Linked DNA regions of Homo sapiens. The protein of the gene in region 2 interacts with the protein of the main gene of each other region in a pairwise test. Each region holds a gene or a part of one and is shown on either strand. Other genes may lie near its edges. The genes, in order: LZTS1, NEK6, PLEKHA7 and CALR.

Region 1 (8,379 bases), on a different chromosome or scaffold from region 2:
ATGCACTCTCCCCAGCTGAGTATGCAAGGTGGGTGTGCAAGCGCCTCCTCAATCTGACTCCAACGTGCCTTTCTAGAAAGGTTTCTTTCCCCACCACCTGCTCTTCCCTATCATGGCCACCCCTCCACTTCGTCTGCCTGGAAATCACACCCAGCCCTTGGGGCTCTTCTCCAGCTCTGTATCTTCCATGAAGACTCGGTGCTGATTCTGTTTTGTAGAATGATGTTTTTCTGGATGTTTTGTCTCACCCCCAATACCAGACAAGTGACTCGTTGTGGCAGGGTCTGTGGTTGCTCATCTTGCACCTGAGCGTAGCACAGGGCTGGACATGAACCTAGCCTTCTGTGACTTTCAAAGGATGGAGCTGAAATAGAAAGAGATGGAGCACAGTAGCTCACGCCTATAATCCCAGCACTTTGGGAGGTTGGACTGGGGAGATTTCTTGAAGCCAGGAGTTCAAAACCAGCCTGGGTAATGTAGCAAAACCTCATCTCTACAAAAAAATTTAAAAATGGGCCAGGTATGGTGATACCCACCTGTGGTCCCAGCTACCAGGGAGGCTGATGTGGGAGTCCAGGAGTTCGAGGCTGCAGTAAGCAGGGATTGCACCACTGCACTCCAGCCTGGACAACAGAGCATGACTCTGCCTCAAAAAAACAAATAACAATAATAAATAAATAAAATAAAAAGAAAAAAGAAAATGGAAAGAACTGGGTTCCTGAGGTGTGAAATAAAAGTTCTTGGCAGTGAGTATTTGTGTGTGTGTAGGGGAGACAGGGAGAGGATATGGATAGAGTGGTTTTTAAGCATCCTTTCAACCCTGAGGTGTTGTGTTTGCATGTAGAGTATCTGAAGTTTTTTCAGCACAGGCTCTTTTGTGTCCTGACAAATCTTAGGACCCTAGAGTTGGAGGTCCTGTCTGCGGCTCTAGAATAGAAGTAAGTCCAACATCAAGAAAAAGTTTCTAAGTCAACAGATGTCCGAGGTACTGGTGGAAGCCCAGAGAAGCCAAATGCCTGGTGCTTCTAGTTTGATAGATGAAGAAATCCTGTCTTGGGAATAGCCACGCATCCTGCCCACACCTGCCCCACCAGCCACCAGCCGGCTGCACAGCCTTTGAGCAGGGCCAGCTGCGGGCCTGGCAAGGGGAGGAGCCGAAGGCAGCTGGGGAGTCCTTCCCAGGCCTCCTTCAGGGGCCGGCTCGCTTTACAGTGCAGGTGGAGGCTGGGGGCTCCGCCTGGCTCCTCTCATTTTCCCCACCTGCCTGCAGTGTGGTTTGTCTGCTGGGGCCACGGAGGCGTTGGGGCTGGGGGAATTTGATAGGCAAGGAGGGGGAGGCTGTCTCCTCAAGATGTGTGCGCTGTCCAGTCCATGCTTCCCTCCCTCCTCCCCTTGCACTGTGGAAATGCCCTTTGGGGGTGGCGGGGAGCAGGGAAGAGCTCAAGCTGGAGTGTCTGAAGGTTGCAATAAATAAGGGAAGCTACCCTGAGTGTGTAGATTGTCCTTCTGGACCTCTGCTGGGGATGACCATGGGAGACAGAGGGGAGGGCAGACCCCACACAGGTACCTACAGACACCAGGCATGGGGCTGCCTCTCTGGAAGGTCAAGGGCAGCCTCAGGGCTCATCCCCATATCCCTCAAGAGTCTCCCCATCTCCCTAGCTAGGGAGGCTTCTGTTCTTGGCATTTTCCTATTATCTCCCCCAAGCAGAGTGTGGGAGGCAAGGAGCCTGGGTTGGGGGCCCCAAGAGGTCCCAAGCCAGCTTGGGATGGCATGAGTTCCCTTTCTAACCTCTCCCTGGGTGCCCAAACAAATGTTATCAGTGACTCAGGGAGCCTCCTGTCAAGGTCAGTCTGCCCTGCCTGACGCTGTCACTGCTGCCCGATGTGAGAACCGATTCTGCTTCCTACCTCCTGCCAGCCCCGGCACCATGCCTGGGCATTGGGCAATGGATGAGCTATCAGGAGAGCCCATGTGCCAGGTGGAGATCACCCCCAGCCTTCTGCACAAGGACCACAGGTCTCTTAAGTTTCTGCTTTCCTGGCTGGTCTGTTCTGCAGTGTAACCCTTTCCCTCCCTGGAGTTTCCCACTGAGATTGCAGACCAAGCCCTGTAGATTCCCTTGTGATTCCATCTCCTCTTGCTTGCCTGGCTTTCCAATTTCTGTGGCCCTTGAGTGGCACAGAGAGATCTGAAGTGGCTGGGTAGAAAGAAGCACTGTGGGCCTTAGCGCCATCCATCTCTGCCATTTGGGACCGAGCCCTAGACCATTCCTAAGGCCTGGTGCTATATATCAGATGCGGGACACACATTCTCTTTCAAGGGGCTTATAACCTATGCTGGGAGGGAGGATAGAGATAAAAAGCTAAATATGAATACATGGGAACAAGTGCTCAAATGGGAGTGACAAGTACGTTATACACTGTAGAATTCAAGGAACAGGGAGTTCACAGAGGGCAGAACCCTTCTCTTCCCATGGCTAATGTCCTTTCCTGCCTCCAGACCAGGGGTGGGAAGACACTCAGTAGCAGGTGGACCCCTCTGTCTCCTCCCACTGAGCCAGGACCCACTCACCTATAATGCCCCCCCAATCCAGTGTCACTGGGGTCACCAGGGAAAGGTGCTGGCAAACCCCAGGCCTTGTTTCCCTGCCTCCTTCACGCTGTCTTCCCTCCTTCCCTCTCTCCCCTCTCCTTGCATGTCTATACTCAATTCTCCCTCTTTACAGCAGGAATATAATGTTCGGCTGCCTTACACCCACTCTCTGAATGCTGCCAGCGAATAATGACTAAGGTGGTGGGTGGAAGTACAGCAAGTTGAGACCAATTTAGCAGTCCATGGTGCCAAGAGGAGGGTGATTTAGCAGCAAATGGCTCTGCAGCAGCAAGAAGAGTGAAAATGTCCCCCAAGCCAACAGGCCAGGGAGCCAAGTGCACAGCCCTGCCCTGATGCCTTGGGCGGGGATGGCCTCAGCCACCTGAGAGGTTATTCTGTGAGGTCAGATTCATGCACAGGAATGGGAGGGTTTGAGAACAATGCCCACTCCCAACCCCATCTCACCTCCACTTTCAACCTCCTTGAGGGGCCCCAGTTCTTGTACCCCTCTTAGGCTGAAAGTCTCACCTAGACTGGCCCATCCTCTTCCTCCAGAGGATCTGTAACTCTAATGGGTTCGTGGCCACCTAAAGACTGCCCCAGGCATGGCATCGGGGAGGGGGCTGTCTGAGCTCACCTCAGACCATGCCACAGATTGGCCAGCCCAGGTAGGCAGAGGTGTGGATCTCCCGGGTCCTGACATCTTGGGAGTCTCTGAAGATTTGTGTAATGTGATGTACTTGGGCTTGTGAGTTTGGGTATCACAAGAAAGCACGTCTCAGAGGGAGAGACAATGAGAGTGGATGAATGAAATGGATACGTGTGTGTGCGTGTGTATGTGTGTATGTGTGCGTGTGTGCATGTGTGTGCATGTGCTCTGGCACTGGCCTGAAGGCAGCCCTATCTTCTCCCACAATGATTAACTGACATGAAGCACATCTATTGGCGATCTCCATGGGGCAGCTCTTTGCTGTCTTTGTTCCAGGTGCTGGACGCAACCCACATCACATCTGTTCAGACACCGATTTGGCCTGTCACTTAGTAAGAAAAATCACCTCTCTGCTGGATTGATTAGATCAATTAGCTTTAGCTGTTAGCTAACACACACATTCCCTCTCTGCTTGTCTTCTGTCTCCGTCTTCCGCCTCCCTTCGCTCCCCTCCTTCCCACGATGCTCCATCCAATTCTCTTCTCCCCTGGGGGCAGCCTCCATGTGTGATTGCCCCTGAAGTCTGGTTTCCACAAATTGCTTGAGCTACCAGTGAAGAGACTGCTATCCCATTTTAGTTCAGAACGTACTTGCTCATGGACAAGGTGGAAACACTGAAATATATTATGCAATTAAGGTTGGTATTCCAATGAAATGTCATTAATTCAAATTCTGTGGAGGCAACATTTGCTCTAATTTCAACATGGAGTGGACTAAACCTTTTGAATTGACAAGCTATAAAGAAAGAACTGACATATGATAAATTTCATTCTCTAAAGCAAATGCCAAGTAGACATTCCATTATCCTAGCTACATCCTACTTTATTGTGTTTGTTTGTTTGTTTGTTTGTTTTTGAGACAGAGTCTCGCTTTTTAGCCTAGGTTGCAGTGCAGTGGTGCGATCTCAGCTCACTATAACCTCCGCCTCCCGGGTTCAAGCAATTCTCCCGCCTCAGCCTCCTGAGTAGCTGGGACTACAGGCGTGCACCACCATGCCCAGCTAATTTTTTGTATTTTTAATAGAGATGGGATTTCGCCATGTTGACCAGGCTTGTCTGGAACTCCTGACCTCTGGTGATCGGCTCACCTTGGCCTCCTAAATTGCTGGGATTACAGGCATGAGCCATCACGCCAGGCCCTAGTTTATTGTTTATTGAGCTTAACATATATGCATCACAAGCACTTAGGGAAAAGGGAGATGGGGGGTGAAGTGAGCACAGAAAAACTGAGGAAGATTCGAATGCCCTCATCATGCTTGAATTACAATAAATACAAAAGTAACTGCATTCTTATAATTTTAAAAATCTCTTTTTCCTGCATATTAAACACTTGCCAACAATTCGATGAGCCTAAATCCATTTAATTGGTGAACCCCAATGACTTGGTAGTTACAGCCCAACATTGGGACTCAGAACAGCTGGTGTTCATATCTCAGCATTCCTCTTAAAAATCTTGCATAAACTCTTTCACCTTTCTTTTTTTTTGTTTTTTATTTATTTTTTGAGACAAAGTCTTGCTCTGTCACCCAGCCTGGAGTGCAGCAGTGTGATCTCCACTCACTGCAACCTCCACCTCCCGGGTTCAAGAGATTCTCCTGTCTCAGCCTCCCAAGTAGCTGGAACTACAGGCGTGCACCACCACACCTGGCTCATTTTTGTAGTTTTAGTAGAGACAGGGCTTCATCATGGTGGCCAGGCTGGTCTTGAACTCCTGACCTCAGATGATAAGCCCACCTCAGTCTCCCAAAGTGCTAGGAATACAGGCATGAGCCACCGTGCCCAGCCCTCCTTCAACTTTCAAAGGCGCACTTGGTTTCCTCATCTGCCAAATGGCAAAGGGAATCTTCTCACAGAGTTGTTGTGAGGTGTAAATAATAATAATAATAATTTTATTCCACTTTTTAAAGTGTAAAGTCCTGTACAAGTAAAAAGCGCTATTGAAATCACCATTAAGGAAGTCTAGGGATGGTGGAAGTCAGTGTCCAGCAGGAAGCAACAGTGTGAGGCTGGATGCGGTGGCTCACACCTAGAATCCCAACACTCTGGGAAGCCAAAGTGGGAGGATCACTTGAGGCCAGGGGTTCAAGACCAGCCTGAGCAACATAGCGAGACCTTATTTCTACAAAAATTAAAAACAATTAGCCAGGTGTGTTGGTATGCACTTGTGGTCCCAGCTACTTGGGAGTCTGAGGAGAGAGGACTGGGGATCACTTGAGCTTAGGAGGTCAAGATTGCAGTAAGCTGAGCCGTGATCACATCACTGCACTCCATCCTGAGAGAAACAGCAAGATCTTGTCTCTAAAAAACAAACAAAAAACCAGTGTGAGAGACACAGGATGAAAACTGCAGCAAAACAGAGGGCTTTGCCAAATGGCAAAAGGAGCTAACTAGCCGTAAGCTCACCAGCTATGCTCGACTGTAGCTGACACATCCCCATCAACTTCTCCAACCCTGGGAGGAGGGATCTGGAGGCTAATTTGCACGCTGGCTGGAGGCAGTGGTGAGAGGTGAGAGGTTGAAAACCTCCCATTTTTTATGCACCACCTCTGTTTGGTCTGGGTGGCTGGCCAAACCCAGCATAAGGAGGCAACAGGCTCTGGCTAAGGTTCTTGGAAGAGAGAGCCCTGTCTCCTCAGCTCTCAGCTTGCATCTTGGAGCCATGAACTTGGCTCCTGCTTCGCTGACTCCCTTCATACCCTCCTCAGGTTCAACTTCAAGGTTCAGTTCACAGCCACCTCCTCCCTGGTAAGGAAGGTTCTGGCTCACCTGCCTCCTGCTGAGAAACTGCTGTATTCAAAGTTAGTATTTTAATTGCAAAAACCACAATTACTTTTGCAGCAACCTAATACAATCCAGTTTTCAACTTACTTGTCATTGGTTCAGGTGTGCCAGTTCTTCTTCCCAACTGTCATCACAAATTTTAGTCTCTAAGCATTATTTCGTCTTTTTTGCTGTTATTCCCCACTCCCTGGCACCTCACACGGATAAGACCTTTAATAAATAGTGAAATGCAGAGTTTTTCAAACTTGATCAATGATCTTTAAAAGAAAAACTTAAATCGCCATGGAGCCCCGAGAACACAGGTAGTAATTCCTATATGAGAAATAACAGGGCGATGGAAAGGAGATGGAAGGAGAATCACTTGACTGCGTCGCCTCGGAGAAATCATGGCCAGATTACCTCCCCAAACATGGTAGCAATTCACACTCTCAACTGCAAGCCTAGGAGTGTCCATTTCAGGCTTCAAACTGTAGCAGCACAAAGATCTATTCAACAGCAAACTCAAAGAGCTAATATGTAAATCACCTCAAGATTCCCCACGTAGTTGGATACTTCTTTGTTGGCAAAATCCCAGAAACATCTCATCATTGCCCTGGAACCATGTGGCGGCTCAAAGTGCAGGATTTTAAAACCCCAGGTCTAGGTCACACCTAGAATGGTCCCCTTCCATAACTGTGCTTGTGGGTTGATTGACCTGGAGATAGAGTGGGTGGGGGCGAGTGTTCCCTCGGACTCCCGAACTGTTGGTGGGGCCTGAGATGGCCCCATCTAGGGAGAGGCCTTGAAGGAGCTGGCCCAGTAACAGAGGAAGGAAAGTCAGTGGCCACACTAGCAAAGGGCACCCATGCAGAAATCCACTGTTGGGAACAGTGCTCCCTGCCAAAGGTCTCTGAGAGCTCTCATCTTTCCCCTTACCTTATTAAACAAGCATTTACTAAGGGCATACTCATAGTATCTACTGAAAGCCAACACTGTATTTTTTTTTTCTTTTTTGAGACGGAGTCTCTCTCTGTTGCCCAGACTGGAGTGCAGTGATGTGATCTCGGCTCACTGCAAGCTCCCCCTCCCGGGTTCACGCCATTCTCCTGCCTCAGCCTCCCAAGTAGCTGGGACTACAGGTGCCCGCCACGACGCCCGGCTAATTTTTTGTATTTTTAGTAGAGACGGTGTTTCACCGTGTTAGCCAGGATGGTCTCGATCTCCTGACCTCGTGATCCACCTGCCTCAGCCTCCCAAAGTGCTGAGATTACAAGCGTGAGCCACAGCGCCCCGCCGCCAACACTGTATTTTGAGCTGGGAACTCATGATGCAATCTCTGCTTCTAGGAGTTTTGTAGACTCCTCAGGAGCCAGTGAGTAAATGCCATAATATACTGGTATGATGGTAGGGACTCTGAGGAAGGTACCTGACTCAGAATTGAGGAAAAAACAGAGGAAACTTTCTTGGAGGAGTTGATCCCTATGGTTAAAACCCACAGTGGGGCTGGGTGTGGTGGCTCCTGCCTGTAATCCCAACACTTTGGGAGGCTGAGGCCAGCAGATCACTTGAGGTCAGGAGTTCAAGACCAGCCTGACCAGCATGACAAAACCCCATCTCTACTAAAAATATAAAAGATTAGCCAGGCGTGGTGGCAGGCGCCTATAGTCCCAGCTACTTGTGAGGGTGAGGCAGGAGAACTGCTTGAACCCAGGAGGTGGAGGTTGCGGTGAGCCAAGATCGCACCACTGCACTCCAGCCTGGGCGACAGAGCAAGACTCCGTCTCAAAAAAAAAAAAAAAAAAAAAAAAAGTGGGAGCCAGTTAAGTGGAGAAGGTAGAGAGACCAGGCAGGAATATTCCATGCAGAAGAAACAGTGTTTCTATGTTCAAAGGTAGCAGAATAACATGGACAGAGCCAGGGTCCAGAACCTTACTAAGCTGATCTCAAATCCCTGCCCCTCGGTTTTGTAGCCTGGCTAAATTACTTAACTCTCCTCATCTAATAATTATACATACCCCGCAGGGCTGCAGTGAAAATTAAATGAGATAATGAATAAAAAGTTCCAGGCACACAGTGGATTTAGTGGCTGGCATTAAGTGTTACGGTATTATCCATTACACTGGTCTATAAGGTGCTTACCCATAGGTCTGTCATCATTACATTATTCATCTTCCTAGCCTCGCTGCACAGCTCAGAGCCTTGCATTTGGTAGGCGCCCAATGAATATTTATGAAATGAACGTTGAATAAGCGCAAAGGCATATAAATAAGTTTTCAGGATTAGAAAGCCATTTATATACGTCTGGAGCCCATGTA
Region 2 (8,379 bases):
GTCAGGCGTTCAAGACCAGCCTGGCCAACATGGTGAAACCCCGTCTCTACAAAAACACAAAAATTAGCCGGGTGTGGTGGTGCACACCTGTTATTCCAGCTACTCGGAGGTTGTAGTGAGCCGAGATCGCACCACGGCACTCCAGCCTGGGTGACAGAGCGAGACCCTGTTATCAAAAAAGGAAAGAAAGAAAAGAAAATCCTCTTGCCCAGATTTTGTGTTGAAAAGGACGTCCTGCGCGAACACTGGCCATCACATCGCTGCCCTCAGCACACATCATGCTCCATAGACATGTTTTTCAGTTACCAAAAAAAGTGTCAAAGCAAGTGAATGGCAAGTTGAAAGTGCCTTCAAATCTCTGAGACATGACCTACGGCGTGGGCAAGCTGCTATGAGGATAAATGGGAACACCCTGCTCCTTCACCCTCCTCTTGAACTTCACCTCATTATGTCACCAGGAAATCTCACAACCTCTCAGGGAGGACTCCCCAAAAACTGCCCAGGTCATCAGCAGTCCAGGCATGACACAGTTTCTCCAACAAGGGAGAAATGAGAGGGGTTGGGTAGGAAGTAAAGCCCCATCAAGGAGGCGCTGGTTCCTGGGGAGGGGAGGAGGGAGACTCCTCCCCCATTTCCCTGCACGTCTGAGGGCAGGGGGTTAAGGAAGGGCTCCCTTAAATGCCCAGGCAGTCTACACAGGCACAGGCAGAAAGGGGCTCCAGACGTCCATTGGGCTAAATCGCCAAGGTCCAGAGAGGGGAAGGGATCAGCCACGGGTCCACAGCAAGCAGGGGCCGAGCTGAGTCTAGAACCTGGTCCACATGGAGTCCACTTCACAGCCTGTGGCCTCTTGGTGGGCCCAGGTGGGTCTGGAAGGGGACACACTTGGGTCAGGGACAGGGAAGGTGCTGCAAAGACGCAATGTGGTTGGGCTTTGTCTGGCTGTGGTGGTGGCCAGAGGGAAGGGAGGGAGAGCTGAGAGTAAGGGTCCCTGTCCTTTGAATCTCTGCCATCAGGGGCTCTGCTCCCAAGCTCCAGGCCCTCCCGGATGTAACACAGAGTGTCTATGATCTGTCTTCTCCACTGGGCTGCACCCTGGTGTCCAGCATTCAGTGGTGATCAGAAATTGCACAGAATGAATGAACACACGCCTGCGTTCCAACAGGACCCACCTTCTTGTCCCACGCTTGGCAGCTGCCGACCCCACCAGCCCCCGCACTTGAGAGGTTTTGGGTTTGGGTTCTTTGCATGAATGATGTGATATGTCAACAGTCACCCCTCCGAAAACCACGTTTCCTTTTGTTTTGTAGGAAGCACCTCGTGCCCTGGCACATCCTGTTGACTTCCCATGGGCTACCTGTGGAGTGGGACCCGTGTTCGGGAAGGCGGCTGGCATTGGCGGGCAGAGGTGGCAACCATGACAACTGGGCTGCCTTGGGCGGCGAGCGTACCACACACCAGCGCTGCCCTGAGCTCGTCAGACATGCTTCCTCACTGACTCCTCCAGCGTCCCTGTTGTCATCATGCCCCCTTTACAGATGAGGAAACTGAGGTCCTGAGAGGCCCATGGCTGGCCTGCAGCCACACAGCTAGTGAGCGAGGGGTGTGTCCTCTGAAACCCCGGCTTGGTGCCCTTGGCTGCATGGCAGCCCTGGAGAAGGGACCAAATCCCCTCTGCAGCCATGTGGGTTTACGCCAGGCTCAGGCTCCTGCAAGGCAGGGGCTGCGGTGGCACATCTGTGTGACCAGGGACCAGACCAGGCTGTGCTCAGCATGCTCACCTGTGGGTTCCTTCACTCGGGGAGAAGGGCACATGAGGTGGGGAGGGGGCAATGGGTGATCAGGACAAACATTCCTCAGGGCTGGGTAAGTGGCAGCAAGCTGACCATTACTTAAACATTTAAACAATGTTTTCGAGGGATATTTTTTGACCTATAATAGTTAGTGGTAAGGACACCTCCTGCCTCCAGCCTTGACTCCCTCACCCACTGTGGCCGGGGGCCACCAGAGCAGGCACTCACAACTCACACCCAGCCATGGCCCCCCGACTTGCAGCCACTTCAGGGGCTCCCCTTTTGTTCTGAGTGTGTATCTGGCTCTGCTGCCATGTCCAGCCTTCTGTCTCCCCAACCTCCCATAATCCACGGTGCTGCGGTGCCTGGAAGAAGGCTCACTTCGGCCTTCCAGATTCTGGGATGGTGCCCTGCCCTCTGTGAGGCCTGCCCAGGAAGCGGGTTTCCCTGGGGCTCCTGGCCCACCAGTCAATCTGCATCACCCTGGAAGGTCACCATCTGCTTCCTACCTGCTTCCCCACCAGCCTGGAAGTCCCCAAGAGCAGGGCCAAGGCCTGAGAACACAGGGCAGCGTGTGGCAGAAAAAACTGCTAATCTGAAATTCTGCAGCTGTGGCTTCGGCGGGCAGCCCTGCCACCAGCAGTCCCACTTTGCTGGAAACTGCCGAGCAAATCCAGTATGTTTCATGGGGGGCCGGGTGCGGTGGCTCCCGCCTGTAATCCCAGCACTTTGGGAGGCTGAGGTGGATGGATCACCTGAGGTCAGGAGGTTGAGACCAGGCTGGTCAACATGGTGAAACGCTGTCTCTACTAAAAATATGAAAATTAGCTGGGTGTGGTGGTGGGTGCCTGTAATCCCAGGAGACTGAGACAGGAGAACTGCTTGAACCGAGAAGGTGGGGATTGCAGTGAGCAGAGATTGTGCCACTGCACTCCAGCCTGGGCAACAAGAGCAAAACTCTGTCTCAAAAAAAAACAAAAGAAATAAAAAATAAAAATCAGGTGTGGTGGCATGCGCCTGTGGTCCCAGCTACTCGGGAGACTGAGGCGGGAGGATTGCTTGAGCCCAGGAGTTTGAGGCTGCAGTGAGCTATGATCATGCCACTGCACTACAGTCCAGGCAACAGAGTTTGCCTCTAAAATAAAAAAAAAACCCACCACCACCACCACCACCACCACTACCAACAAAACCAAAGAAAAAGGCTGAGAGGAGAGATGGAAAGAGGATGAGAAAGAGAAAAACAGGGAGACAGACATAGAGACAGAGGCAGAGCCAGACAGGCTGCAGTCTGGATGTGGTCCCCACAATGAACTCCTCCCCTAGCCAAGCCTGGTCCATAGGCCACTGCGAGGCAGGGTCAGGGCTGCCCTGTGGGGAAGGACTTCTATGCCGGGTACTGCCATGTACAAGCAGGAGGGGCGTGCAGCAAGGAGGAAAGGCTGTAGGCAGCGACCCCAAGGGCTGGGCAGAGCGATGAGGCGGGCCGCTCCTGCCTGGCCAGGAGAAAACTCACTAGCCGCTGCCCCTAGAAAGCTATCGTCTGTTAACTTAGCAGGGGCTGCGGATTCCTGGCACCCAAGGGCTGTGATGGACATGATGTGGCCCAGCCGCGGCCCCAGAACCTCCCCGAGGAGGCAAAGCTCCCGCTCGGCCCAGGGTGCTCACCTTCAAGAGGCCGATCTCCTTGACACAGTCCTGCCTCGCCTTGGCGTCCATCATCTCAAAGATCTTGGGCGGGAGGAAAAAGAGAAATAGAGTGGTTACAATCTGTGTCCAGTGACCCAAAGGAGGCCACGGGGTCTGCTTTCCAGTCCCGGCTCTCCCACCTCCTCACCAAGGGACTCTGTGACCCCCCCCTGCACTCCCAGCCCCTGTAGGGCTTGCTCACTGTGGGTCCCCCCAGCACTGTCCCACCACAAAACCCATCGTGGCACTAAAGAACCAAGACAGAGAGCCCAGGTGAGCCCCTCCCCAGAAGATGGAGAGGGCGGGCCAGGCACAGTGGCTCACACCTGTAATCCCAGCGAGGCTGAGGTGGGTGGATCACTTGAGGTCAGGAGTTCGAGACCAGCCTGGCCAACATGGTGAAACCCCGTCTCTACTAAAAATATAAAAATTAGCTGGGTGTGGTGGTGCACGCCTGTAGTCCCAGCTACTCAAGAGACCTAGGCAGGAGAATCGCTTGAACCCGGGAGGCAGAGGTTGCAGTGAGCTGATCACGCCACTGCACTACAGCCTGGGTGATAGACTGAGACTCTATCTCAAAAAAAAAACAAGATCAAGAGAGAAACTGGTCCTTTTTTGGACAGAGAGGACCCTGCTACTCCTCCAGCGCCCTGAAGCTGCGGGTGTTCTCTCCCCATTTCCCCAACGCCATTCTCTCTCCCGGCCCTCCTCTGCCCAGGCTCTCAATCTTGTTCTTTAAGGACAAGTAAGCAAATCAAGGGGCTTGGGAAGCTTTGCTGGAGGATTTAAAGCCATTTCCTCCGGCAAAGCTGTGTTCAGACGGGCCCAGCGGCTCTCATGGACATGGCTCCTGTCCTGACTTTGCCGCTTGACCTACTTCCTCCATTTAGGAGGGACGCAGAAGGCAGGAAGCCCAGAACTGTGGAGCAACCGCAGGCGCAAGGATGGGTGGACATGGTATGAACCTCAGCTCCCCCAAGACTCATGCTGGGGCCCTGGCGGTTATGAGATTTTCCTCATCTGAGAGATGAAATGACAATCCCCACCCACGGGACTGTTGAGAGGCTCCATGTGCTCCTTGCATGACCCAGTACACAGCAGGCGCTCAATGCATGCTCGTTTTTCTTTTCCTTTGCAGTTCACAGTGAACTTTCATCAATAGGAGTCCACCTGGTTCTCTCTGTAACCCAGTGAGTTGAGTGCTGTTTCCCTCGTTCACAGAAGAGGGGAGAGAAGGGACTGGCCCGGGCACCCCGTCCAGATGCAGAGACCACCTCCCGAGATGCAGGTTTGACCCCACGGGTTGTCAGCTCACCTGCACCTTCTTCAGAGCCACTGTCTTCCTGTCCAGCAGGCAGGTGGCCTTGTACACCTCGCTGAACTGTCCTCGGCCTATCTTCTTTTCGATCTGGAAGTCCGCCAGCGAGCAGCGAAAAGACAGCGTGTTGGGATGCCTCTGGAACGGGGGACAGAGGGCCTCCGTGAGCAGCCAGGCTGCAGCAGAGGCCTGGGGACGACCCCTAGAGGCCCAGCACCCCAACAGCACCCTCTAAGGTGAAGGAGGGACTCTGCTGCCAACCCTGCTCTGGGAGCCTCCCAGGCACCCCCCCAGGGGGCTTTCTGCACAGGGTCCCCTGGGTCCCCTCAAGGACCCCCAGTGCAGGTGAAAAACTGAGGCTGTTCATGCTCCCCACTGCCCTCATCACCACCTTCATTGTCTGACTGCTTGTTTGTTTGCTGTCTCTGAGTCCCATCCCTGGGGGCTAGCTCCGTGGGACCACGGGCGTTGCCCGTCTCATCCTCTCCTGAATCCTTGATGCCCAAACTGGGGTCCGGTAAGCCGGGTGCAGCTCATGTATCCCCAGCCCGTGGCCACCATGCAAAATGCCCCAGGTCATCATAAGAAATGGCAAGTTCCCTTCCTGGGGCAGCCGTTCCCCATCTCAGACAAGAAAACCAAGGTTAATATTCATAGCCTTGGCCAGGTGTGGTGGCTCACGCCTGTAATCCCAGCATTTTGGGAGCTGAGGCGGGAGTTCGAGAGGTCAGGAGTTCGAGACCAGCCTGGCCAACATGGCGAAACCCTGTCTCCACTAAAAATATAAAAATTAGCTGGGTGTGGTGGCCCATGCCTATAATTCCAGCTACTCAGGAGGCTGAGGCATGAGAATCGCTTGAACCCAGGAGGCAGAGGTTGCAGTGAGCAGAGATCATGCCACTGCACTCCAGCCTGGGTGATGGAGACTCTGTCCCCCTCTCAAAAAAATGTGCAGCCTTACACCCTGAGCCCATCCTTTAGATAAACTGCCTTTTTTAGGGTGTCGTGAAGAAACCAGAGCTCCACAAAGACTCTGCAGGGGCCAGCATTGGAACACATGATCCTGCGCTAGGACCTGCCCAGGGATGGAGCCTCCAGGTGAGACCACAGTGGCCAGGAGGACCCCAGGACACCTGTGCAGTGAGCTCTCAGGAAAAGGCAGGAGGGGGCGCCAACAGTGGGCCAGGGAAGGAGGAGACAGACAAGGGGAGAGGATGCCACATCTCTGGCCTGCCCTATGGTGAGATGGGCCCGGCTGTGTCTCCATTTGCCTGATGAGGAAACTGAGGCCCAGAGGGGCCAGCCATGCCCACATCACCCAGCTCCATGCCACCGCCCCTAGTGAAGCCAGAACAAGCAGTTCAACTTTCTAGCATGAAGTGGGTCTTTGGTGAGGGTCACACTGAGCCGGGCACCGTACCGAGGCGTCTTTAGGAGCCAGCACCCTGGCGGAAGGCATCAAGACCAAACCGAGAACTACAGGACTGGCCCTTCTGACAGCTGCTTCCCCACCTGGAAACACCAGGAACTGCTGGCCGGACCAGCTGCGTCTCAGCCTGAGATGCCTGCGGAGCAGGGGCACGTCTCCTGGGCAGGTCTAAGCTGGGTCCATCAACTTCTCCTCTGTCCTTCTCCCAGAGTGCCTGAGGGGAACCTGGTTATGTGGTGATCCCTACTCTGGGACCCTGAATCATGACTTAATGAATAATAGAAACTCACTGGAAAAGCAGGGAAAAAAGTAAAGTGAAAATGTCTCTTCTAGGCCAGGCGCAGTGGCTCACGCCTGTAATCCCAGCACTGTGGGAGGCCGAGGCGGGCGATCACTTAAGGTCAGGAGTTTGAGACCAGCCTGGCCAAAAAATTTTTGTAAAAACACAAAAATTAGCCGGGTGTGGTGGTGGGTGCCTGTAAATCCCAGCCATTTGGGAGGCCGAGGCAGGAGAATTGCTTGAACCTGGGAGGCGGAGGTTGCAGTTGGCCTAGATCGTGCTACTGCACTCCAGCCTGGGTGACGGTGAGACTCCATCTCAAAAAAAAGAAAATGTCTCTTCCAGATTTGGCTGAGGGAACTCTACAGAACACCCTCCTGCGGGAGTGAGTGATGGGAGTCCAGGCCTCACAGCACACAGCAAGGTGAGGGCTGGGCCAACCTTGACTTTGAAGCCTCGAGGCCTAATTACCTCTCATGGTGGGTCCTGCCAGAGGACCCGATCTGGAGGGCTGCTGGAGGAGGAAGATGATGATTTTATCCACCATGTGCCAATGTCTGTCGGGTAAATACACCTGTACACAGAGCACCCACCTAAGAAGAGCAGGCATCCTGAGTGTCTACTGCATGCTGGGCTCTGTGCAGACACCGCCCACGCGCCCACTCTTTGGGTCCTCAGAACAACCCTGTGAGTGGGCCTCACTGCTGTCCCCATTTCAGGAATCTGAGGCTTGGAGGGGTAGCAGTGACCTGTTCTGATCAGGCAGCAAAGAACAGCAGAGCTGGGGTGTGACCCCAGGACTGGGGACTGTGGTGCCCAAGCTCTTGCTCCGTATCGGGTGGGCTCTCAGCTCAGATCCCTCCTCGGCTTTTCACTCAAGACCCCCTGACCGGCCAGGCCTGCCACTTCCTGCTCCAGCCTCCATTCTTTCAGTCACCTGAGCCCTGCCCCAGGCCCCGCCCCAGGACCCGCCACCGGCCTCTTCAAAAGGGGGCCCCTGTCTAGTCCCCTCCACGTCCTCTGCACTGAGGCTCTGACCCCAGAGCAACTGCTTGGAGCATGTTTGTGGAATGACACATGGAATGTGCCTGACACGACCTGGCGCACAGTGGGACTCTGTGACTCAGACGCCGTCACCTCTAGGAATGCAGCCAAAATCACATACCCTCATAAACAGCCAGGGCGGCTTTCTGAGCACTTAGAAGAATCGCACGTACTCATAAAAATAACCATGAGGTGTTGTACGTTAGACGCCTACTATGTGCTAGTTTCCAGCTGCTTAGACAGCTCTATGTCTCCAAACTCCTAATAGCTTCATGAAGCAAGGGTTATGAATCCCATCTCGCAAATCAGGAAACAGGCTAGAACTCCCTGTCAGATCTAGAGCCAGCTGCACTGCTGGTGATGGGGGTGGGCTCCCTCCCCTCTTGGGCCTCAGTTTCCCCCAGGCACAGTGAAGGGTTTGGAGGAAGTGGTCCCTGAGGGTCTTTGCCCTGGAAGACCAGGCTTCTTACTGTGACTAGTGGGAGTCTGGCCGGGGTTCCCAACACTGCCCGTCCTGGGAGGCTACACCGTGCAGCTCCACAGTGGGGCCGAAGCTCCTGGTGGATGTGGGTGGAGGTGGCTGGGGCTCCAGCTGCTCACACGCATATGGATGACCCAGATTTGCATTTCTTGTCACAGTCCATCCGACCCAATTAGAGGCCAGCTCCTCTGGTGGGGCAGCTTCCTAGATGGAGCACGTGTGCTGGGGACATGGTCCAGCAGGCTCTGGGGCACCACTGCACTCCCAGGGCTGCCACAGGACGCTGTCCCCAGGGTGGCCTCTGCTCAGGTGTGGGGCACCTTGAGACACCAGGCTCCTGGGGGCAGC
Region 3 (8,379 bases), on a different chromosome or scaffold from region 2:
AAACTTGTAAGGAGCTAAGAAGGCAAACCCACCACTTCGTCTTCCTCAGGAGAAATCGCAGATACAGAAAGATCTATGGAGAATTGAAGATGTCACTGCAGGCCTGAGTGCAAATAAAGAGAACTTCAGAATTCTAGTGGAGTCAGTAAAAAATCCGGGTGAGATGTTCATCTTCCTGGATGTGGGGGATCTGATTGGGGGCAGGGTGGTGGGAGGGTGGAAGGCTGGGAACCAGGTGGGTGGGATGGCCCTTGGGGAGGTTGAGTCTTCGAGGTGCTAAATTACTCCACTCATCCTCCAAGGAAGGGGGTCTTTGTTCCATCCCGTGCTTTGTTTCCTTCTATGCCCCTTAGAGAGAAAAACGGTGCCTTTGTTTCCTCACCCGCCTGTGCCTTCACTCTCAACTTCTGAGAGCAAGCCGCCCCCACAGCCCAGTCCTCCCACCAGCCCTGTGCGGACCCCTCTGGAGGTTCGACTCTTCCCCCAGCTGCAAACCTACGTGCCGTACCGACCTCACCCACCCCAGCTGAGGAAAGTGACATCCCCCCTTCAGTCACCAACTAAGGCGAAGCCCAAAGTTGTAAGTAGTGATAACTAGGAGCTGAATGCCATTGTTTCCTCTCTGTCCTCAGATTACCTTCTCCTGGGAGAGAAACTCCTGGGAAAACTTGGGGAAATGGACCCAGCCAGCGTCCTAAAGGAGTCCTTAGTCACAAGCAGTTAAAAAGTAGTATTTCCCTGCTATTGTGCCTTAGACTGTCAGAACTGGAAGAGCCCTGGAAGATGATCTAACCCAACTCTCCCATTTTGCAGTTGGGAAAACTGAGGCCCACCAAGAAGAAGTGAGCGTGCTGAGTAGGGTGGAGTTTGTGATCTGCAGAGAGGTGTGTGGCTGTGGACGAAGCTGTCCCCATGCAAACCTTTGTGCAAATCCGCAGGGGGCTCTCCTGCAGTTACACAGCCTGTGGGCAGTGAGTTCAGTCCAGTGGAAAAGTGTCCTTCCCTTCACCCGCCGCTGAGCACTGGGCTGGGTTGTGAGGATGCTTTGATCTTTAAAATAACCTCGCAGAGTATACACAGCAAGAGCAGTATCCCCATTCCACAGAGAAGAAAACTAAGAGCCTAAATTGTTGACATTTGCTCAATGTCTCCATGCTAACTAGTGAATCCAATCACATCTCCTGGCCCTTCTCTTTTATTCTGTGCCATCTGCCATCTAATTGGGCTTTCAGTCCCAGATCCGGTCTGTGGCCTCTGTGGCTGACTGGGCCAGCACCTTGGTTTGCCTGGCATAGAAAGGGGCCAAGCTCTTGGCAGAGTCTGGGAATGCAGGAGACTTTAAAGAAATAGGAGATGTGGTCAGGTCCCAAGAGAGCTCACGCCTCCAGGGCCAGGCCAGCCTTGGCTGGAGAACACAATGAGGCTGGTCCCAGTGCAGGGAAGCCATAGAAGAGTGGACCTCGGAATGGGGCCCTCCAGATTTTTGCCAACAAAGGCTTGGAGGAGACTTACCTGGGCATTGTGTGTGCCTGGACCTCTGATGAGGTCAGTGCACAGTGCTGGGTAAAACACATGAGTTCTGCTGCCCTGGTCTTCACCATCTACCTGCTTCCAGCCATAGTCCAGGGCCCAGAGCTGGACCCAGGATATGGCCCAGCACCCAGCCAGAGAGTCACTGTGGATTTCAGCATCTTGAGATCTCCTTCCCAATCCCAGATCCAAGAGGTGGACTGGAGCTCTAGCCCTAAAACAGGAGAGGGAAAATTCCAAAACAAACAGCAGGAATGTCTGGGGCAGATGGCTGCCAACATAGGGCAGAATGCTGCCAGCTGGGACAGGGCGTAGGGGAAAAAGGCACTGGCATAGGAGCTGGGACACCCAGATTCCGGGACTGATTCTCTCACTGTGTCCTCAGGCAAGTCCGTCCCTTCCCTGAGCCTCCTCATTTTCCCTTTTGTAGATGGTCACAGAGGCTCCTCCTCAGCTTGGTCATCTGTGGCTCTCAGGCAGGGCTTTCTCAGCTTGGGTGAGCATCAGGATCACCAGGAGAGGTCCTCTCTCCTAGGAATATATGTGTGTTTGCCAGTTTTACCATTTGTTTTATTACTTACTTGTTTTTAACACTTATAAGATGGGCGTGGTGCTGCTTGCCTGTCGTCCCAGCTACTGGGAAGGCTAAGGCAGGAGGATCATTTGAGCCCAGGAGTTTGAGGCTGCAGTGACCTGTGATTACACAACTGCACTCCAGCCTGGGCAATACAGCAAGACCCTGTCTCAAAACAAAATAAAACCCATTTATATTTGTGAAACAATAATATCCATCCTGAAAATGACATAAAACAGGATTATATAATTTAACAAATAACAATAAAGAGACCACCTGTTTTATACCAACAGCTAGACTAAGAAATAGAACACTGCCAGCAACCAGAAGCCTGTGGGTTCTTTCCCAGGCCAAGCTGCTTCCTGTCTGCCAGAAGTAACCACAATCTTGACTTTTTGGATAATAATCCCCTTGCCTTTTTTTTTTTTTTTAATTTTAGTACCTGTGTTGACTCCTAAACACTGTGATTATGCTGGTATATAATTCTATATACTATTTTGTGTCTTGCATCTTTTCTTCAACATTATGTTTGTGAGATTTATATACATTGTTGCATGTGGCTATAGTTCTTTTATTTTTATTTGACTTATTTTCTTGAGTTTAATGTCTTTTTAAAAATAAATTAGATAATATTCTCAAAAGATACAAAAGCAAAAGATATAAAAAAGTACATAATAACATGTCTCCTTCCCACCCTCTGCCTCCAGACATTCCATTCAATCAAAGGCAATCAATGTTTTATGTTTATCTTTCTGGGGAGCTTTTTAGAAATTGGTGATTCGGATATCTTGTCAGGATTGGAAACTGTGGATCCTCAGAGAACCAGTGCGTATCTTAGGCAGATGGCTTAACTTTCACACATCAGTGAAGATTGTTGATAAACCTTTGCTTTGGAGTGCTCTTTCCTGAACTTTCCAAGAGCTTGGAGTGCCCTTTCCTGAACTCTGCAAAATTCTTAAAAACAAAACCAAATTAGACCGAGAAAGAGGGAATTTAGGAGGTGGAAGGCATGATGGTCGTTAGTCCTGCGAGTGGGTGTTCATGGCAACCAGGGGCCGGTCTGTTGATATGTAGAGGAACCACAGCCCTCACAGAACACTGTGGACAGGGAGTTTCAAGGAAAATGTTGCATTCATCACATTCTAGGGAATGAACTGCATGGTAGGCAGTGAGTCACTCATCCTGACCGCCTGTTCTGTCTGAGTCAGGAAGGAGGAAATATTTTGTAACCATGCACATTTCTGATAGAAAGGCCAGGAGGATGTAGACTCTGTCCTTGTTCAGGTCCCCACCTTGCTGAAGGCGCCAGAGCTCGTGTAGGGCCAATGAGCCGGCTCAGGCTGAGCACTGCTGAGTGGGTAGATGTTACTCTCCAGGTAGGTGGTGCTGTGATAAGCATGGAAGTCAGGGCAGGGTTAGCAGCCTGCCTGCGATGTGCACTCCAGATGAGCGGAGGGAGCAGTTCAGCACAGCACCGAGGGCATGGACCCAGGAGACCTGAGTCCTGGGTTTCAGGACACAGTTATACAGGTAACACTTGGAGGAATAGAAACTGTATACCTCTGAGGGGATAGAGGAGCAGAGCATGTCCCTTCTTCACTGCTCCGCCAGGGGAAGTGTGAGTGCTCCTTGGCTGAGGCAGTCATGTTCTGTGGCTCTGATGTGGCCTGTTCCTACCCTTTAAACCTCCACTGTGGCAGTACCTAGCAGTCCTCCCTCCAGCTCCGTCTCGCTGACCACTGGTCTGGTTCTCTTTCTCAGCAGGAAGATGAAGCACCTCCCAGGCCCCCACTCCCCGAACTCTACAGCCCAGAGGACCAGCCCCCGGCTGTGCCGCCTCTGCCAAGAGAGGCCACCATCATCCGGCACACATCTGTGCGGGGCCTCAAGCGGCAGTCAGACGAGAGGAAGCGAGACCGGGAGCTGGGGCAGTGTGTGAATGGGGATTCCAGGGTGAGCGGGGGACCCTGGGGCTGCCACTCTACATGTGGGGAGAGGTAAAGGGGTGTGACACTGGCAGGTCACATCACCTGGGACTCTGCCCACAGGTGGAGCTGCGGTCGTATGTCAGTGAGCCTGAGCTGGCGACCCTCAGCGGGGACATGGCCCAGCCCTCCCTAGGACTTGTGGGCCCTGAGAGCAGGTACCAGACGCTGCCAGGCAGAGGTAAGGCAGGGCCCTCCCTGGAGTTTCTCTGGGAATCCCACCACACTGCTTCCAGCCTTCAGCTGGTGCCTCGTACCCTTCTGCCTGCAGCTCTAGGCCTAGGAGTGAGCAGCAGCTGTCAGGGGGGTCTGGGATGCCAAGAGGGAGGACCTGGCCTGTCTTCCTCTGGCCCACATCCTGATTCTCTTCCTCTTTTGTTACATCTGTCCCCAGGAACAATGATAATAGCAGTTACTAGAAAGCCTGGCACTGTTTAAGCACTTTATATAGACATGATATTCACAACAATCCTATGAGGAAAGTACTGTCATCCCCATTTTAGAGACACAGAAACTAAGGCCCAGAGAAATTAAATAACTTGCCAATTAGCTGGTCATTGGTGGAACCGGAAGACAATCCCAGTGCTCTGGCTCCAGAGTCACTGCACCCTGTAGGCCGGAGTGCTGGGTGGCTGCCACCACCTTGGCCATCTCAGACCTTCCAGAGTGCCACTCTAAGACTCAGTGAGCCCTTTCCTTAAATGCTTTCTTGCCAGTTGAGTGTCCTTCTCACTGTCCTCCTCACCCCAAGTTGGGTTGTGCAGGGTGCCTAAGAATGGATCAGGGGGTGAAAGGCATTCCTGCCCCGCCAGCCTTTCTACCTGCCAGGCAGCCCAGTCATCTGCATGTAAGGGAAGCCTGGGGTGGTCCACAGATCTGCAGGGACACTGCCCCCCATCAGGGACAAAGGTCACCCCTGGGCTGGCCCCCATCCTCTATTGGGGACCTTGCTCCTCCATGCCCTGGGGAGGAAGAAGAGAAATAAGGGTGGGTCATTGACTGGGTGCTCTTGGTACTCCTGCAAGAATGTGTGATGAGGGAGAAGCAGGGACCCATCCACCCCAGCACAAACATGCTTGCACTTCTCTTTCCTCACTAAGGGCTCTCAGGGTCCACGTCAAGGCTCCAGCAGTCGTCCACCATTGCTCCCTACGTCACACTCCGGAGGGGTCTCAATGCCGAAAGCAGCAAGGCGACCTTCCCTGTGAGTGGCCTTGAGCTGTCGAGGACCTCCCTGCTCCTTCACATGGGGAGGGAGGGTCTCCCAGGGGGACAGTAACTGGCCATCCCTTCAGCCCTGGGGATGGCCTCTGGGGTGGCCTCAGCCCCTCCTGAGCTCCCTGTCACCCACTGTCCACCAAGGAGGGCATCCTGCCTTTCTCTCTGGCCTGTCAGGGTGGCAGGAGGGAGCTCAAGAAGCCTGCACCCTGGGTTCTGGCCTCACTGGACAGGCCTGAGCCTAAGTGTCTGCATCTGCAGAATGGGTGCTACTCAGAAAGCTCCTGAGGGTTGGGGGCATCGTGTTGCTTAGAGGAAATAGTTCTCTAAGGCCAAGAGGAGCCCAACTAGAGTGTGCATGTGTGTGAGAGAGAGACAACGGGAATGCAGCCAGCAGGGTGGCTGTCCTCTGCGTGCCCAGCCCAGCTGTTCTGTGTCTCTCTTGCCTGCCTCCTCTTCCTCAGAGACCTAAGAGTGCCTTGGAGCGCCTGTACTCAGGGGATCACCAGCGAGGCAAGATGAGTGCAGAGGAGCAGCTGGAGCGCATGAAGCGACACCAGAAGGCCCTGGTCCGAGAGCGCAAGAGGACACTGGGCCAAGGGGAGAGGACGGGCCTGCCCTCATCTCGCTACCTCAGCCGGCCGCTCCCTGGAGATCTTGGCTCAGTATGTTAGGAGGGGCCAGGCAGCGGGGCAGGGACAGGGAGCCGAGTGCCCCTCAGAGTCCCCCAAACACAAGCACATCACACCTCCCAGTGAGAGAGCTGTCCATTGACCTACATGGTTCAGAGAACACCCCACGGGGCTGTTTGTCCACGACCCAGGCTGGACGAATGCCTGGTCAGAGGGTGACCTGAACCAGAGCTGGAGTGAGGATCAAACAGGCCCAGGAGCCTGAGGAAATACCCAGTCAGTCCTCCCAGCCGCGATGGAGAGGGGCCTTTGCAGGCGTTCGGAATCTCGGCTGAATTCAGGACCTGGGAATACAGGGTTCAGAGAGGAGAGGAGGAAGATGGTGACATGATTTGGTTAGAAGCACAAGCAAACTGATCAGCCTCCCAGACCTGCCAGCAGATGCTGTGTGAGGGTGATGGAGCACGGGGTCACACCCCTGCCCCAAGGGCCACTGGTCTCCCTGGGCTTGCAGTGCAGAGGCCTCAGGGTGTCTGGGATTGCTGGGGAGGCCTGTGCTGCCCCCTGGTGGCGCTTCCTGGCGCTGCGCCCTGTCCACAGTCACCTTAGGTCCCTTTGGAAACATTCCATTTGACTTTTCCCTGTTGTTTGAAATCCCATGTTTCCCTAAACCTCTAGCCTGATTGTTCTTTCCCTAATTCATTGCACAAGCTCCTTTGCTTTTAGTGTTACCGCTCATTGCCTCTCTAATCCTGCCTGATTGTGTTTACAGAAGCTTCTGATTTGCATTGAACATGCTCTAACTGGCCTGTGCTACTTATTACCGGGCTTGTAATAGCGGTTCTTGTCTCCATAGCCTGTTGAGTGTTCCCAGATGTGACTCACCTTTCTGCTGCCCTCTTCATGCAGGCCTACTGACTCATAATTCACTTGTCCCAAAAGCCACCCCACAAGCCTGAGCCAACCTGCTGCCTGACGCCACAGTCATTGGCAGAGGTCTGGGCATTATTAATTTATAAAAATCCATGCTTTACACCTGGACAGTAGACAGGGACTTCAGAGATTGCACGTTTGAATACATTCTCCCAAGACTGAGGTTGTTCGGTTTTAATTCCTGTAGTCCAATCACACAATTTCTTATGGAAAACCTTTTGTGTTTCTGGTATTTAATAACTTGAAGGGATAGCAAAATATACTGTGTATTCAGAGGGCCTCTCTGCAGCTGCTAGCTCAGACACCAAAGGGGTAAGGCCCAGGACATTCATATCTTTAAAAGCTGCAAACCTGGTAACCTTTAAACTTTTAAAACAAATGTCATATGGGGTAACACTGACCTTTTATAATTTGATGTCTCAAATGTAGAGATTATCTAAAAATCGTAACTTGAATACCTTGTAATTTTTCTCTTAAAAAAGAAGACTTGTGTAAGTCTCTGCATCAACGCCAATAAACATGTTGCTTAATAATAATGGATTGGCGTGGTTCTTCCCCAGGATACCTTATAGAGTCTAGTGAACTTTTCCTGTTTGTGGAAACAATCAGGCTGGGTTTAAATGAGGACTTGTCTCTATTTGGAGCATTTGTGAGCGTGTAAGGAAATGAGTGTTTTCTTTGTGAATCATTAAATTGATTTTTTCATCTTTGGAACTTCAGTTGCCTAATCCTTTCCAACAATAGTTGGAAACCATCACCTAAGAGTGATTACATTGATTTGGAGTCATTGAGAGCTTGTGCATGAATGGGTGAAATGTGCGAATATGGCTCTGGGTTTGGGGTTCTGGAGGGACTTGAGGCATCAAAGACAATCAGGACCATTTGGGGCTTTGAGGTGGATGGATGGGAGAGAGAAGATGGCCTGGGATAGATAAGCATCTGCTTTGGTTTTGCTCAGGGGAAGAGAGGCTTTGAGCCTGCTCTGTTCTCAACAACCTGCTCAGCGGTCAAAGGCCTGTGAGGATGCAGGTCCTGGGTCAACAGGAAGTCACCACGGAGCTGGACAGTCATGGTTGGATCTTATCGGTTAGATTTTCCCTCTTGGGAAGCTTGTTACAAAGTTGATACTGTGAAACAGCCTTAGAAACATTCCATTTGATTTAGCATTTCAATTTTATATGATTTAGTTTTTTTTTCTAATTTAAAGAAAACATCTATCTCAAATAGATGGGTCTCATACAGCAGTTTTTCTGCCTCATTGGCTCCAAGCTGCTTTTGCTTGTACCTCCCCAGCCCTACTGTAAGTGCGAGATCCCCCACCTACGAATGTTATCTTGTTGAAAATTCCCAATAGAAAGATCCTTGGTTATTCTTCTTGCTTAGCAGGGCCTTGAAGGGCGTGTTTTTCCATTAATTCTGAGCCTGGGACGTATGTCTCCTGAACCAGCTGTAGAGAGTGGAAGGGACAAATCCCTTCTCTAGAACTCTGTCCCAAGTTGTTTGGAGG
Region 4 (4,760 bases), on a different chromosome or scaffold from region 2:
GCTTGGCCTGCCCAGGAATCCGAGCTTGTGACTCCCGCGCCCCGCGAGAGCGCTGACATTGGAGCCGGGGCCTGGCCAGCGCCCCGGGGGTGGGGCCTCGCCCGGAGACCGGCGCAGGAGCGCCGCCCGATCGGCTGGGGGCTGGGCCAAAGACCATCGGGGGGTCCAGGAAAGTCGGGCAGGTCGGGGGTCTGGGCAGGGCCGACCCGCGCCGTCCTCCCTGCCCCTCCCGTTGGGATTCTAGCCTCCCCGCCCCCACCCCACCCCCGAAACCCGTCGCTCCCGCCCCCGGGCTCCGGCCCGGCCCGCACCGTCTCGTCAGGCTCCATGCGGATCTTGAAGGTCTGCTGCTGCAGCGTTTTGAGCGTGATGGTGACGGCCATGGCGGGGCCCGAGCGACGCGGCGGCCCCGGGATCCTCACACAACATGCAACTCACGCCGCCGCCATCTTAGCGCCCAGGCGCGCCGCGCCGCGCGCCGACCACTTCCGGGGCAGGCAATGCGCGCGCTGACCACCGGCGCACGTGACCTGCGCACTCCCTCCTTGGCCTTTGTGGGCATGCGCACGAGCGCGTTCTCGAGCGAGGCACGCGCAGACTAAACTCCGCGCTGTGGGCGGGGCTTCTTGCTCGGCCCGCACACGTGGTCTCCTGAGTGACGCCATGCCCGTTATCGGTGACGTCACGGGGCTGCAAAGTGACTCTGGTGTCCCCACTCTCACGCTCAAATGAATTTTTAACAAAGTTTTTATGTACCTGTACTGGTTACAGACATTTGTATTTCTTCTGTAAAAACCTCATTTTGCCTCTTCCAAATGAGAATTTTTTCTTTCAAACAGTCTCTGTCACCCAGGCTGGAGTGCAGTGGCGCGATCTCGGCTCACTGCAGCTTCCGCCTTCCGGGTTCATGCAATTCTCCTGCCTCAGCCTCCCGAGTAACTGGGATTACAGGCACCCCCCACCACGCCCGGATAATTTTTTGTATTGGGTTTCACCGTGTTGGCCAGGCTGGTCTCAAAACTCCTGACCTCAGGTGATCCACCCGCCTCGGCCTCCCAAAGTGCTGGGATTACAGGCGTGAACCACCGTACCCGGCCCCCAAATGAGTTTTATTCTGGTCTGGGTATCCTGGCAGGAACCCTTGTAGAGCAGTCAAAGTGAAAGTTACTCAAAACTAGAAATACCTGAAAGGCCACCAAGCACAGAAAAAAAACCTTAAGTTGGAAGCGGGGGCAAGGTGCCATTTTGTAGCCTCATTCATTCTTTAGGGATCTGGAGTTTTGGAATGAACCTACAATTTTCATTCTTGGGTCTCCGGGCAGGAGTACTTTGTTGTACTATACCTAATCTGACCCCAGAAGTATTTAAAGATGTTAACTTTCAAAGCCTCACTACATTAAATACAGAATTCTCCCTTGGATCTACCAGTCCTGGAGGCATCCCAGAGGGGTTGGGCTGAGCCACAGGACCCCAAAGGAATAGAAGCATGAAAAAGGCCAGTTTAAGGGGCAGGGTGAACCAGATTGAGCCACTGTACGCCAGCCTGGACAACAGAGCGAGAGTCTATCTTAAAAATAAATAAATAAGCAGAACCAAAACTTACCAGTTAGGTTCAAGGATTCAGTAAGTTAGTATGTGGAGTATTTACAGCAGCAACAGCCATTCCCCCGTTGGTTTTGAGGGTTATGGGGTAAATAAGGGTCCCTGGAATCTTGTGGAACACTCAGCAACCTCTCTAGCAATAGCTGAAAAAGGAGATATACTGGAAACCCCCCCCCCCCCCAAAAAGACCACTGCTGGGTTTCCTTAAGTCTGTCTTTCCCCAGAAGGAGACACAGGAGGGAGACACAAAATTTAATTTAATAGAAATTTTGTTTGTAGTTCTTACATTCTCAGTGTGAGCCAATCTGGGACCCACTGCCCCACCCAGAAGTGGCCCAGTCCTGGGGGCAGGGGAGAAAGGGAGGGGTGAAATGAGAAGAGCCCCGTTCTTCCTCAGTGCTGGGGGGTTGGAGACACCACCCCCTTCTGCTGCCCTCCTCTGGGCTCCAGGAAGGAGAGCAGATGAAATCTCAGGCCTGTGGCTTCTCCACACCACTGCCCCCCAGGTTGGAGGGGAGCTAAGAGATGAGAGAAGGGGACAGAGGCAAGAAAAGATGTTGATCAAGAAAGATGAGAACCAGGGGTGAGGGCTGAAGGAGAATCAAAGATAAAATACCAGTTTAAAAAAAAAAAAAAAAAAGGGCGGGGAGGGGGTGGGGGAGAGTGGAGGAGGGGAACAAAACCAAAATCCACCCCAAATCCGAACCAGCCTGGAAAAAAATGAAAGTTCTCGAGTCTCACAGAGACATTATTTGGCGCGGCCAGCTCTGCGGCAGGAGCGCTCAGGCCTCAGTCCAGCCCTGGAGGCAGGCCTCTCTACAGCTCGTCCTTGGCCTGGCCGGGGACATCTTCCTCCTCATCTTCCTCCTTGTCCTCCTCATCCTCCTCATCCTCATCTTTGTCCTCATCATCCTCCTTGTCCTCTGCCTCCTCCTCCTCTTTGCGTTTCTTGTCTTCTTCCTCCTCCTTAAGCCTCTGCTCCTCGTCCTGTTTGTCCTTCATTTGTTTCTCTGCTGCCTGCAGGCAGAGCACACACCTCAGGGCCTTGCCCCCTGCCAGCCCTGCCCGCCCCCGACATCAGGACCAGGACCAGGCCTCACCTTTGTTACGCCCCACGTCTCGTTGCCAAACTCCTCAGCGTATGCCTCATCGTTGGTGATGAGGAAGTTGTCAAAGATGGTGCCAGACTTGACCTGGAGGATGAATGGGAAGGATGGTCAGAGGTGATACCCGATAGCCCTTGCTTTGGACAGGGTTTCCACCTGTGTTCCTATAACCACTATATTCTGCTGCCTGCATCTGCAGAGAAGACAAGGAACACCGCTGACACTGCAGTTAAAAAGATGGAGAGGCCAGGTGAGGTGGATCACGCCTGTAATCCTCGCCCAGAGGCCAAGGTGGGCGGATCACGAGGTCAGGAGATCGAGACCACCCTGGCTAACACGGTGAAACCCCGTCTCTACTAAAAATACAAAAAATCAGCCAGGCGTGGTGGCAAGTGCCTGTAGTCCCAGCTATTTGGGAGGCTGAGACAGGAGAATGATGTGAACCCAGGAGGCGGAGCTTGCAGTGAGCCAAGATCGTGCCACTGCACTCCAGCCTGGGTGACAGAGTGAGACTCCATCTCCAAAAAAAAAAAAAAAAAAAAAAAAGATGGAAAGATGGAGAGACAGCCAGGGACGGGACGGGCTCATGCCTGTAATCCCAGCACTTTGGGAGGTCATGGCGAACGGATCACTTGAGGCCAGGAGTTCGAGACCAACCTGGGCAACATAGTGAAACTCTGTCTCTACTAAAAAAAATTAGCCCGGGGTCTGTGATGGCGCATCCCTGTAATCCCAGCTACTCAGGAGGCCGAGGCAGGAGAATCGCTTGAATCTGGGATGCAGAGGTTGTGGTGAGCCGCCGAGATTGCATCATTGCACTCCAGCCTGGGCAACAAGAGTGAAATTCCATCTCAAAAAAAAAAAAGCCCAGCGTCGTGGCGCATGCCTGTAATTCCAGCTGCTCGAGAGGATGAGGCATGAGAATCACTTGAACCTGGAAGGCAGAGGCTGCAGTGAGCCGAGATCAAGCCACTGCACTCCAACCTGGGTGACAGAGCAAGACTCTGTCTTAAAAAAAAAAAAAAAAAAAGATGGAGAGACTCAGGTGCTGTACTGCCCAGGTTCAAACCCCAGCTTTGTGGTTTCCTACCCCCATGACCTTGGGCCACTGACTTCAGTTCTCTGCACCTGTTTCTTGTTTCTCACTCTCTTATTCAGGTATTTTTCAGGTACCTACTACATGCCAGAACTGTCTTGGGCACAGAAGGTATTTCAGTGACCAAAACAGACAAAAATTCAGTCCCAGCATTTTTTTTTTTTTTTGGGACAGAGTCTCGCTATCACCCAGGCTGGAGTGCAATGGCATGATCTCAGCTCACTGCAAGCTCCGCCTCCCGGGTTCACGTCATCCTTTTGCCTCAGCCTCCCGAGTAGCTGGGACTACAGGCGCCCACCACCACACCTGGCAAATTTTTTGTATTTTTACTAGAGATGGGGTTTCATTCACCATGTTAGCCAGGATGGTCTCCATCTCCTGACCTTGTGATCCACCCGCCTTGGCCTCCCAAAGTGCTGGGATTACAGGTGTGAGCCACTGTGTCCGGCCAAGTCCCAACTTTTTTTGAGAGGGTCTCACTCTGTCACCGAGGCTGGAGTGCAGTGACATAATCATGGCTCACTGCAGCCTCGATGCCCCAGGCTCAAGTGATCATCCTTCTTCCTTGGTAGTTGGGACTACAGGTATGCATGACATCTCGCCAATTTTTAAAGTTTTTGTAGAGGCTAGGCATGGTGGCTAACCCTTGTAATCCCAGCACTTTGGGAGGCCGAGGCGGGCAGATGACCTGAGGCCAGGAGTTCGAGACCAACCTGGGCAACATGAAGCCCTGTCTCTACAAAAAGGCTGGGTGAGGTGGCTCACGCCTGTAATCCCAGCACTTTGGGAGGCCAAGGTGGGTGGTTCATGAGGTCAGGAGATGGAGACCATCCTGGCTAACACGGTGAAACCATGTCTGTACTAAAAAAAAAAATACAAAAAAATTAGCCAGGCATGGTGGGGGGTGCCTGTAGTCCCAGTTACTCGGGACCCTGAGGCAGAAGAATGGAGTGAAC

What was found.
Region 1: the proteins of NEK6 (region 2) and LZTS1 interact in binary tests that used the Homo sapiens proteins (3 or more experiments, as listed by UniProt).
Region 3: the proteins of NEK6 (region 2) and PLEKHA7 interact in binary tests that used the Homo sapiens proteins (3 or more experiments, as listed by UniProt).
Region 4: the proteins of NEK6 (region 2) and CALR interact in binary tests that used the Homo sapiens proteins (3 or more experiments, as listed by UniProt).

The regions. Positions count from the first base shown.
Region 1 is NC_000008.11:20,293,273-20,301,651, forward strand, and holds part of LZTS1 (leucine zipper putative tumor suppressor 1), read right to left. Parts: intron 1-8,379. UniProt on the Homo sapiens protein: Involved in the regulation of cell growth. May stabilize the active CDC2-cyclin B1 complex and thereby contribute to the regulation of the cell cycle and the prevention of uncontrolled cell proliferation. May act as a tumor suppressor.
Region 2 is NC_000009.12:124,309,065-124,317,443, reverse strand, and holds part of NEK6 (serine/threonine-protein kinase Nek6), read right to left. Parts: intron 4,936-8,379; coding exon 4,795-4,935; intron 3,522-4,794; coding exon 3,459-3,521; intron 1-3,458. UniProt on the Homo sapiens protein: Protein kinase which plays an important role in mitotic cell cycle progression. Required for chromosome segregation at metaphase-anaphase transition, robust mitotic spindle formation and cytokinesis.
Region 3 is NC_000011.10:16,786,689-16,795,067, reverse strand, and holds part of PLEKHA7 (pleckstrin homology domain-containing family A member 7), read left to right. Parts: intron 1-49; coding exon 50-158; intron 159-353; coding exon 354-580; intron 581-3,865; coding exon of another isoform or gene 3,866-3,868; coding exon 3,869-4,057; intron 4,058-4,152; coding exon 4,153-4,270; intron 4,271-5,189; coding exon 5,190-5,293; intron 5,294-5,771; coding exon 5,772-5,972; coding exon of another isoform or gene 5,973-5,981; exon of another isoform or gene 5,982-7,586; intron 7,587-7,830; coding exon of another isoform or gene 7,831-7,893; exon of another isoform or gene 7,894-8,379. UniProt on the Homo sapiens protein: Required for zonula adherens biogenesis and maintenance. Acts via its interaction with CAMSAP3, which anchors microtubules at their minus-ends to zonula adherens, leading to the recruitment of KIFC3 kinesin to the junctional site.
Region 4 is NC_000019.10:12,941,572-12,946,331, reverse strand, and holds the end of CALR (calreticulin precursor), read right to left. Parts: intron 2,796-4,760; coding exon 2,703-2,795; intron 2,620-2,702; coding exon 2,419-2,619; 3' UTR 1,843-2,418; downstream 1-1,842. Other genes in the region: RAD23A (UV excision repair protein RAD23 homolog A), read right to left, coding at 312-383. UniProt on the Homo sapiens protein: Calcium-binding chaperone that promotes folding, oligomeric assembly and quality control in the endoplasmic reticulum (ER) via the calreticulin/calnexin cycle.